3 linked regions of the Homo sapiens genome follow. The protein of the gene in region 2 interacts with the protein of the main gene of each other region in a biochemical or structural test. Each region holds a gene or a part of one and is shown on either strand. Other genes may lie near its edges. The genes, in order: NMRAL1, USP1 and BCAT2.

What was found.
Region 1: the proteins of USP1 (region 2) and NMRAL1 form a complex in vitro, tested with the Homo sapiens proteins (one study listed by BioGRID).
Region 3: the proteins of USP1 (region 2) and BCAT2 form a complex in vitro, tested with the Homo sapiens proteins (one study listed by BioGRID).

Annotation. Positions count from the first base shown.
Region 1 is NC_000016.10:4,461,107-4,464,692, reverse strand, and holds the end of NMRAL1 (nmrA-like family domain-containing protein 1), read left to right. Parts: intron 1-842; coding exon 843-1,033; coding exon of another isoform or gene 1,034-1,051; intron 1,052-1,180; coding exon of another isoform or gene 1,181-1,216; exon of another isoform or gene 1,217-1,273; intron 1,274-2,733; coding exon 2,734-2,913; 3' UTR 2,914-2,999; downstream 3,000-3,586. UniProt on the Homo sapiens protein: Redox sensor protein. Undergoes restructuring and subcellular redistribution in response to changes in intracellular NADPH/NADP(+) levels.
Region 2 is NC_000001.11:62,446,895-62,449,676, forward strand, and holds part of USP1 (ubiquitin carboxyl-terminal hydrolase 1), read left to right. Parts: intron 1-446; coding exon 447-617; intron 618-1,570; coding exon 1,571-1,772; intron 1,773-2,782. UniProt on the Homo sapiens protein: Negative regulator of DNA damage repair which specifically deubiquitinates monoubiquitinated FANCD2. Also involved in PCNA-mediated translesion synthesis (TLS) by deubiquitinating monoubiquitinated PCNA.
Region 3 is NC_000019.10:48,800,957-48,804,610, reverse strand, and holds part of BCAT2 (branched-chain-amino-acid aminotransferase, mitochondrial isoform a precursor), read left to right. Parts: intron 1-3,654. UniProt on the Homo sapiens protein: Catalyzes the first reaction in the catabolism of the essential branched chain amino acids leucine, isoleucine, and valine. May also function as a transporter of branched chain alpha-keto acids.

The sequences.
Region 1 (3,586 bases), on a different chromosome or scaffold from region 2:
TGGTGAGCCAAGATTGCGCCACTGCACTCCAGCCTGGGCGACAGAGCGAGACTCCATCTCAAAAAAAAAAAAAAAAAAAAACCTGCAGTCAGGGATATCTCCTGCTCCGGTCTGTGCGCTCTGTGCCCTCGAGCTCCCAGGTGATCTGAACAGGAAGCTGCACTGGCCCCTGTCTCTAGGTAAGGAGGATAGGACCCAAGCATTCCACAGGCCACACCCAGACAGTTGCCAGCCTCCCCATCTACAAAACCTCAGCCTGGAAGTTTGCGAGTCATTCATTCATTCAGGATTTATGAAGCATTTATCATGGACGTGCTGCTCTAGGCCAGCCGTTGGTGTCTGGTTAATCAGGATTCCTGGTAAGTGAGTTGGTATTTGGAGTATCTACTCAGAGGTGGACGTTCCAGCTTCCAGGAATCTAGGATATGACAGAGTACTTCAGGCTGGTGCCTCCAGATTAGCGGAGACCCTGGGCTCCAGCCACACTCTCTGTAGCAGCTTTCAGAGTCCTTTTCCTTTGTCCCTTCTCTGTCATCCTAGCGCTGAGAGAGCTGGGCAGGCCCAGGTTCTTAGCCCCATTCTAGGAATGCAGCAACCCAGGCTCAGAGAGCCTCAACAGCCTGCCCTAGGTGGCAGTACCCGGATTCCATCCCGTTTCCTGACTCAATTCCACTGCTGCCTCTGTGCTACCACAAATAGCAAGACTTGTCTTAGCTATGCCCGAGTGCTGGAGTGTGCAGCTGACTGCTGGGAAGAACCAGCTTGGACCCTTTGGAGAGGGGCTCTGTCCCTGCCCCTGTCTGCCCTCGGGACATATACCAGCTCACGTCTCTGCCCCACAGGCTTGCCCACAGGTGACGTTCCCATGGATGGCATGTCCGTGTCTGACCTGGGTCCTGTGGTGCTCAGCCTTTTGAAGATGCCAGAAAAATACGTCGGCCAGAACATCGGGCTGAGCACTTGCAGGCACACGGCCGAGGAGTACGCTGCCCTGCTCACCAAGCACACCCGCAAGGTCGTGCACGATGCCAAGGTGGGCCTCCCGCCCCAGGTGACTCAGGCATCCTTGTCAGGGCTTTCTAGCTCCCGTAGGGAGGGTGTGTCCAGGGCTGCCCACACCTCTGGGCAGTACATCTAAATTCATTCGTTCATCGTCAACGTTTATTTTCTGCTGTTCCAGGAGCTAACTGGCCACAGAGTGAAATTTCTGGCTTAGATGTTTTGACCAAATAGAGAGAAAAGCTTCCAGGAGGAGAGGGCCATAGGAGCCAAGGCAAGGAGGGGTGAAAATGCAGGCCCTGCCGGGCTCCTCTGTGGGAGGGAATTTGAAGAGAAAAGAGTCTGGAAAGATAGACCCGACCCCTCCCCTGTGGGAGGGGATTTAAAGGGAAAGAGGCTAGAAAGATAGGGCCGACCCCTGCCCCCATTGGCCTGGCTGGGTGGGCAGGAGGCCTACTGGACAGACTCTTGGGTACCTGGTTTCTAATGTTTGTCATTACCATTAGGAAAGTAAGACATACTCATTAAAGAATCTGGGAGGCTGGGTGCAGTAGCTCACGCCTGTAATCCCAGCACTTTGGGAGGCCGAGGCAGGTGGATCACCTGAGGTCAGGAGTTTGAGACCAGCCTGGCCAACAGGGTGAAACCCCATCTCTACTAAAAATAAACAAATTAGCCGGGTGTGGTGGCAGGCGCCTGTAATCCCAGCTACTTGGGAGGCTGAGGCAAGAGAATCGCTTGAACTCAGGAGGCAGAGTTTGCAGCGAGCCGAGATGCCACTGCACTCCAGACTGGGCGACAGAGCGAGACTCCAACTCCAAAAAAAAAAAAGAATCTGGGAAACACTGGAGTCCTTAAAAGACGAAAGTTGGGTCAGGCGCGGTAGCTCACACCTGTAATCCTAGCACTTTGGGAGGCTGAGGCGGGCAATTACAAGGTCAGGAAATCGAGACCATCCTGACTAACACGGTGAAACCCCGTCTCTACTAAAAATACAAAAAATTAGCCCGGCGTGGTGGGCCTAACTCCTGGGCTCAAGCGATCCTCCCACCTCCACCTCCCAAAGTGCTGGGATGACAGGTGTGAGCCACTGTGTCTGGTCAAGCTTTGGTTTTTGAGAAAGAAAGTGATGCAGGCAGGTCTCTGATTTGGAAGGGACTGAGATATTTTCGTCTCATGATCTGAAAATAATAGTCTTTTTATTTATTCATTTTTGAGACAGGGTCTCACTCTTGTTGCCCAGGCTGGAGTACAGTGGGGTGATCTCAGCTCACTGCAACCTCCACCTCCTGGTTTCAAGCGATTCTCCTGTCTCAGCCTCCTAAGTAGCTGGGATTACACGCACCTACCACCAGGCTGGCTAATTTTTGTATTTTTGAAAGAGACGGGGTTTTATCGTGTTGGCCACGCTGGTCTCGAACTCCTGGCCTCAAGAGATTTGCCTGCCTCAGCCTCCCAAAGTGCAGGGATTACGGGCATGAGCCACAGCATCTGGCCAAGAACAATCTTTAAACTGATCTACAATGTCAGGCAGCTCAGGAGAGCAGCAGTTTCTGAACTTTCGGCTCTTAGAAGTTTTCAAATGACCTTGTACGGAGGACCTGGGTCAGGGACCGAGACAATAGTGGCTCTGGGTGTAGCAGGTCGGGAGACCCCAGCCCATCCGGCCTCCCTGCCCCGCCACCTCCCGGGGCACTGGAGGACGCCGGCCACGACAGGCTCCTCTGCTTCCAGATGACTCCTGAGGACTACGAAAAGCTTGGCTTTCCCGGTGCCCGGGACCTGGCCAACATGTTCCGTTTCTATGCCCTGAGACCCGACCGTGACATCGAGCTGACCCTGAGACTCAACCCCAAGGCCCTGACGCTGGACCAGTGGCTGGAACAGCACAAAGGGGACTTCAACCTGCTGTGACCTGCCCGCCTCGCGGCCCCTTGTGGGGATCGGGGGCACCAGAGGGGCAGAGGCACCAACATCTGAATAAAGCCATTGTTCTCCCAGATGGCTTCCAGGAGAAGAGGACTCTGCTTCCAGGACTTGGGTTGGGGTGGTAGTTGTGTACCAACACAACAGTAAGTGGTTGGGGAGGGTCCGGGGCTGTACCAACACAGCAGTAAGTTGGAGCGGGGGGGGGGGGTCCAGGGCTGTACCAACACAGCAGTAAGTGAGGGGACCCGGGGTTGTACCAACACAGCAGTAAGGGGTGGCTCCAGGGCTGTACCAACACAGCAGTAAGGGAGGGTCCAAGGCTGAAGGGATCACTTGGTGACTGGGACGAGTGACCTAAACGTGTTTAGTCAGACAGGTGTGAAGTGGCCTGTTCTGACCTCAGCTAGCAGAACAGCTCTGACCAGCAGCCTCTGTTCCCACATTTGAAATTCATTCACAGACGGGGACATAGCACAGGACACAGAGGAGCCCCAGGAGCCGAGCTTCTGACACACCCCTTTCATCTCCAGAGCTAGTGAGGCCATCTGCACATGTGAACTGGAGACAGGCTCTGCAGGGAGGCGGGGGAGATATGGGCTTCTCCCTTTCTCTCCTCATCCTTGTCCTGGAAGGAGCCGGCCTTGGGGTACCATCCTGG
Region 2 (2,782 bases):
ACCTCCACCTCCCGGGTTCAAGCGATCCTCCTGCCTCAGCCTCCCGAGTAGCTGTGATTACAGGCATGCACCACCACACCCGGCTAATTTTGTATTTTTACTGGAGACAGGGTTTCTCCATGTTGGTCAGGCTGGTCTTGAACTCCGACCTCAGGTGATCTGCCCGCCTCAGCCTCCCAAAGTCTTGGGATTACAGGCTTAAGCCACTGTGCCCGGCCTACAACTGACTTCTTTTAAAGACAGTAATTTCATAGTCAGTTTTATCTTTACAGGGACCTTAAATTTCATTAATAGGGTACCTCTAATAAGCTAATAATGCTAATAAGCTGATCTATGAAAATGGAACTGTTATTCATGATATACTTTATTTAAATGGAAAATTGGTTATTTGGACTATAATGAGAAACTAATCTGTATAGACTTACATTTTCCTATTTTCATTTTAGGTGAAGAACAAATTGGTTTTGAGCTAGTGGAGAAATTATTTCAAGGTCAGCTGGTATTAAGGACGCGTTGCTTGGAATGTGAAAGTTTAACAGAAAGAAGAGAAGATTTTCAAGACATCAGTGTGCCAGTACAAGAAGATGAGCTTTCCAAAGTAGAGGAGAGTTCTGAAAGTAAGCAAAATTGGAGTCTTGTGTGGACCATGATGGAATATTTATAATTCTTTAACAACACAAAGTTTAATAGTAGCTGGTGTAATTAGGGAGGGGAAAAAAGCTAGCTTTTAGTGTCTAATGTAACCTTTCTGCTTATCTGGCTTCACTTATAAATGGTTAGCATTTGGGAAATTGTGACATCTTGATTTTGATGTAGAGTGTGTTAGAATGGAAAACTGAAATGCTTTAATAAGTGTACTTTTGGGAACCTGAGTCTTTCAGAGCTACTGAGGGTTTTTTTTAATTTTTTTGAGATGGAGTCTTGCTCGGTTGCCCAGGCTGGAGTGCAGTGGCGTGATCTCGGCTCACTGCAAGCTCCGCCTTCTGGGTTCATGCCATTCTCCTGCCTCAGCCTCCTGAGTAGCTGGGACTGCAGGTGCCCACCACCACGCCCGGCTAATTTTTTGTATTTTTAGTAGAGACGGGGTTTCACCATGTTAGCCAGGATGGTCTCAATCTCCTGACCTCGTGATCCGCCCGCCTTGGCCTCCCAAAGTGCTGGGATTACAGGCGTGAGCCACCGCGCCTGGCCTACTGAGGTTGTTTTTAACACAATAATTGAGCCACTGTTGTGTCTAGAGCATACCACAAAATATGGAAATACCATAGGAAATAATCATGAGACAGGTTTACCTATCACATATTGAAAGTTGGCAATTAAATGTAAACAGACTAGGCTTATTTTGTTTTTGCTGTCTATCATATTTTTTGGCCGATCAAATATATTTAAAAGGTATGTATACTGTTGAGGATGCACTTATGAAAGTAGTTTCTGAAAGTAAAAATCTCTTTAGTTATTTAGGAATGGGTCGGTCAATTGAAATTAAATGCTAATTTTGAACCTGAAACTTTGTGGTTTATTTTTTGAATGCCTGAGAGAAGTATTTGAGTGAAAGGATTCTCTTTTTTAGTTTCTCCAGAGCCAAAAACAGAAATGAAGACCCTGAGATGGGCAATTTCACAATTTGCTTCAGTAGAAAGGATTGTAGGAGAAGATAAATATTTCTGTGAAAACTGCCATCATTATACTGAAGCTGAACGAAGTCTTTTGTTTGACAAAATGCCTGAAGTTATAACTATTCATTTGAAGTGCTTTGCTGCTAGTGGTTTGGAGTAAGTATTGTAAATAAGAACTATATGAAGAAAATGAGCTGCTGTAGAAGATAAGTCTTGTTCAAAATGCTGTAATAGTAGGAATATAAAGTACTGAAATGAAGTAGATTGTAAAGATTGCTTCAGTAAAGTTTTGTTCTTATTAACAGTTTCCCTGTAAAAATGAAACAACTTAAATCCTTTTGATATGAATACATATTCTATTAAGTATGATTTCTTCTCCTTTTTTTTTTGAAACAGGGTCTCATTCCAGTTGTCCAGGCTGGAGTGTAGTGGCACAGCCTCAGCTCACTGCAGTCTTGACCTCCCAGGCTCAGGTGGTTCTCCCACCTCAGCCTTCTGAGTAGCTGGGACTACAGGTGCATGCCACCATGCCCAGCTAATTTTTTGTATTTTTAGTAGAGACAGGATTTCACCATGTTGCCCAGTCTGATCTTGAACTTCTGGACTCAAGCAATCCACCTGCCTTAGCCTCACAAAGTGCTGGGATTACAGGCGTGAGCCACCATGCCCGGCCAGTTTCTTTATTCATCTTTTCATATTCATTCCCTCTTAGATGTTAGTAGCAGAATTCAGTAGAACTGACTAAAGCAGGGAACAAATTTTGTATACATCAAGATTTTTTTGAAGGGGCGGGAAAGGCTAAATTCTTCCTAGTTTTAAGGTAAGCCAGGAAATCAAACTAGTCTTTCAACAGTTTGAAAAAAAATGCTGATTGTTTTGGATAGTCTGTTTTTTTCTGACATGTGTAATGTCATTGTATGTGTGACTCCTTTGTACATTAGTTGCTTGTTTGAAATTACCACGAGGGCTTCACAGTAGCTCTCTCACACTTGATTATGTCAAAAGATAACATATAGCCCCTTATTCAGTGGACCTTCCCTTTGCTAATAGTATAAAATACTATTTTATTTACTTTCCCAAATTTTGGTAGAGAAAAACTTCACACTAAAAATGACTAAAATGGGCTGGGCGTGGGTGGCTCACACCTGTAATCCTAGCACTTTGGG
Region 3 (3,654 bases), on a different chromosome or scaffold from region 2:
GCATGTGTGGATTGCAGGCCGACCACGTGTATTATTTTTTATTTTATTTTTTCTTATTTATTTATTTAGAGACAGAGTCTCACTCTGTCCCCCAGGTTGGAGTGCAATGATACAATCTCGCTCACTGCAACCTCCGCCTCCCGGGTTCAAGTGATTCTCCTGCCTCAGCCTCCCCAGTAGCTGGGATTACAGGCGCCCGCCACCACACCCGGCTAATTTTTGTATTTTTAGTAAAGCCAGGGTTTCACCATGTTGGCCAGGCTGTTTTCGAACTCCTGGCCTCAAGTGATCTGCCCACCTCAGCCTCCCAAAGTGCTGGGATTGCAGGCGTGAGCCACCATGCCTGGCCTTATTTTTTATTATTGTGGTACTAATACGCATACATAATAACACACAGCATCAAATGTGGGATTCCAACCATTTTATTTGTTTGTTTGTTTGTTTATTTATTTATGAGATAGAGTTTCACTCTTGTTGCCCAGGCTGGAGTGCAGTGGCACAATCTTGGCTCACTGCAACCTCTGCCTCCCAGGTTCAAGTGATTCTCCTGCCTCAGCCTCCTGAGTAGCTGGGATTATAGACATGCACCACTATTGGCTAATTTTTGTATATTTAGTAGAGACACGGTTTCACCACGTTGGCCAGGCTGGTCTCAAACTCCCGACCTCAGATGATCCACCGCCTCATCCTCCCAAAGGGCTGGGATTACTGGCGTGAGCCACGGCGCCCAGCCTCCAACCATTTTAAAGCCCATAATTCAGTGGCAGGCAATGTTATGCAACCATCAGCACCATCAAGGTTCAGAACTGTTTAATCCCCCATACCTATTAATCAGTACCCATTGTCCCTCACCCCAGCCCATGACAACCATTAGTCTGCTTTCTGTCTTTGTCTACCTGTATTTGTTTATTTATTATCTTTAAATAATAGGGATGGGGTTTCACCATGTTACCCAGGCTGGTTTTGAACTCCTGAGCTCAAGTGATCCACCTGCTTCGGCCTCCCAAAGTGCTGGGATTACAGGCGTGAGTCACCAAGCCTGGCCACCTGCATTTTTGTTGTTGTTGTTATGACTCTTTTTTTGAGAAAGGGTCTTGCTCTGTAGCCCAGGCTGGAGTGCAGTGGCACGATCTTGGCTCACTGCAGCCTTGACCTCCCAGGCTCCAGCGATCCACCTGCGTCAGCCTTCCAAGTAGCTGGGACTGCAGGTGTGCACCACCATGCCCAGCTAATTTTTATTTTATTTTATTTTTTTTTAGGGATGGGGTCTTGTTATGTTGCCCAGGGTGATCTCAGATTTCTAAGCTCAAGTGATCCTCCTGCCTCAGCCTCCCAAAGTCCTGGGATTGCAGGCATGAGCCACTATATCCGGTGTATCCGGGCTCTTTTACCTGGGTTTTGTTTTGTTTTGTTTTTGAGACGGTGTCTTGCTCTGTTTCCCAGGCTGGAGTGCAGTGGCATGGTCTCAGCTCACTGCAACCTCCGCCTCCTAGGCTCAAGTGATCCTCCTGCCTCTGCCTCCCGAGTGGCTAGGACTACAGGCACACACCACCTTGCCCAGTTAATTTTTAAATCTTGTGCAAAGACAGGATCTCACTTTGTTGCCCAGGCTGGTCTCGAACTCCTGGCTTCAAGCAATTCTCCCACCTTAGCCTCCCAGTTCTGGGGTTACAGGTATGAGCCATCATACTGGGCCTGGAAATTCTTCTCTATACCTTAAAGCTTAAAGAGCTTTTTCCATCTTTCTTGCAGCCTCATGCTGTATCATCCTAACAATGCACCTCCTTAGGCAATCCCCTACTGTTGGACACTTAGGTTGTTTCCAGTCTATTATAAACAATTTTGCAATAAAGAATCTAGTACAGGGCCGGCTGTGATGGCTCACCTGCAATCCCAGCACTTTGGGAGGCTGAGGCAGGTGGGTCACCTGAGGTCAGGAGTTCAAGACCAGCTTTGCCAACATGGTGAAACCCCATCTCTACTAAATATACAAAAATTAGCTGGGTGTGGTGGCGGGTGCCTGTAATCCCAGGTACTCGGGAGGCTGAGGCAGGAGAATTGCTTGAACCCGGGAGGCGGAGGTTGCAGTGAGCCGAGATTGCGCCACTGCACTCCAGCCTGGGTGGCAGAGTGAGACTCCATCTCAAAAAAAAAAAAAAAAAAAAAAAAGGAATCCAGTACACACGTCCCTTCTTTAGTCACTTGTTTAAGTGCAAATGTATCTAGAGGCTCAATTTCGGGAACTGTAGGTCAAAGGATATGTATGCTTGTAATCTTGATACGTATCGCCACATCTACATCTACAGGGTGTGTCAGTTTCCACACCCACCAGCAGAGCCTGTTTCCATACCTTGGACAACCCTTGTCCAAGTTTTAGATCTTTTCCAATCTCCCATGTGGTTTTAAAGGTATCTCAAACTAATTTTAATTTGCATTTTTCTCCCTAGTGATTAATGAAATTGACTATCTTCTCACGAGCTTAAGGGCCACCTGTATTTCCTTTTGTGTGAACTGTCCATTTGCTAGGCTGATTTTTCTATCAGGTTAGGTTTTAAAAAATTCATCTGGGGCTGGGAAGAAGAGGCAGGGGGATTGCTTGAGCTCAGGAGTTCAAGACCAGCCTGGGCAACATAGTAAGACCCTATCTGTACAAGAAATTGGAAAAAAAAAAAAAGTCCAGTCGTGGTGGCTCACGCCTGTAATCCCAGCACTTTGGGAGGCCGAGGTGGGCGCATCACCTGAGGTCAGGAGTTCAAGACCAGCCTGGCCAACGTGGTGAAACCCCGTCTCTACCAAAAACACAAAAATTAGCCGGGCGTGGTTGTAGGCACCTGTAATCCCAGCTACTTGGGAGGTTGAGGCAAAAGAATTGCTTGAACCTGGGAGGTAGAGGTTGCAGTGAGCCAAGATAGAGCACTTCAGCCTGGGCAACAGAGTGAGACTCCATCTCAAATAAAATAAAAAATAAAATTCCCAATCCAAGATATAAAACAGTTATTTTTGTTTCCTTCTATAGCTTTTATGGTGTAATATATATATATATATTTTGTTTAGACTTTTAATGCACCTGGAATTTTTTCTGGTGTGAGGTGTGAAATAGAGATTCAACGTAGTTTTTCTCTAGATGGATATTTGGTTATCTATTCCATTATTCAGTCTGTCCACTCATATAGCAGTGTCACTCTGTTTTAAGTATTGTAGATTTATAATGTTTTACTACCTGATATGGCTACTCCCTGCCCCTGCCCCATCTTGCCCCTCATTTTTGTGGTGGTGGTTTTTATCCCCCCAAAATATTGTAGCTAGTTTTGCTTGTCTTCCATTCATTTATCTATTCATTCATCAAAAACCCACTATGGGAAAAAAAAAAAAAGTCTGGCTGGGTGCAGTGGCTCACCCCTGTAATCCTAGCACTTTGGGAGGCTGAGGCGGGTGGATCAACTAAAAATACAAAAATTAGCTGGGCGTGGTGGTGGGCGCCTGTAATCCCAGCTACCCAGGAGGCCGAGGCACAAGAATCACTTGGACCTGGGAGGCGGAGGTTGCAATCAGCAGAGATCACGCCACTGCACTCCAGCCTGGGTGACAGAGTGAGACCCTGTCTCAAAACAAAACAAAACAAAACAAAACAAAAAAACACTCTGTGCCAAGCGC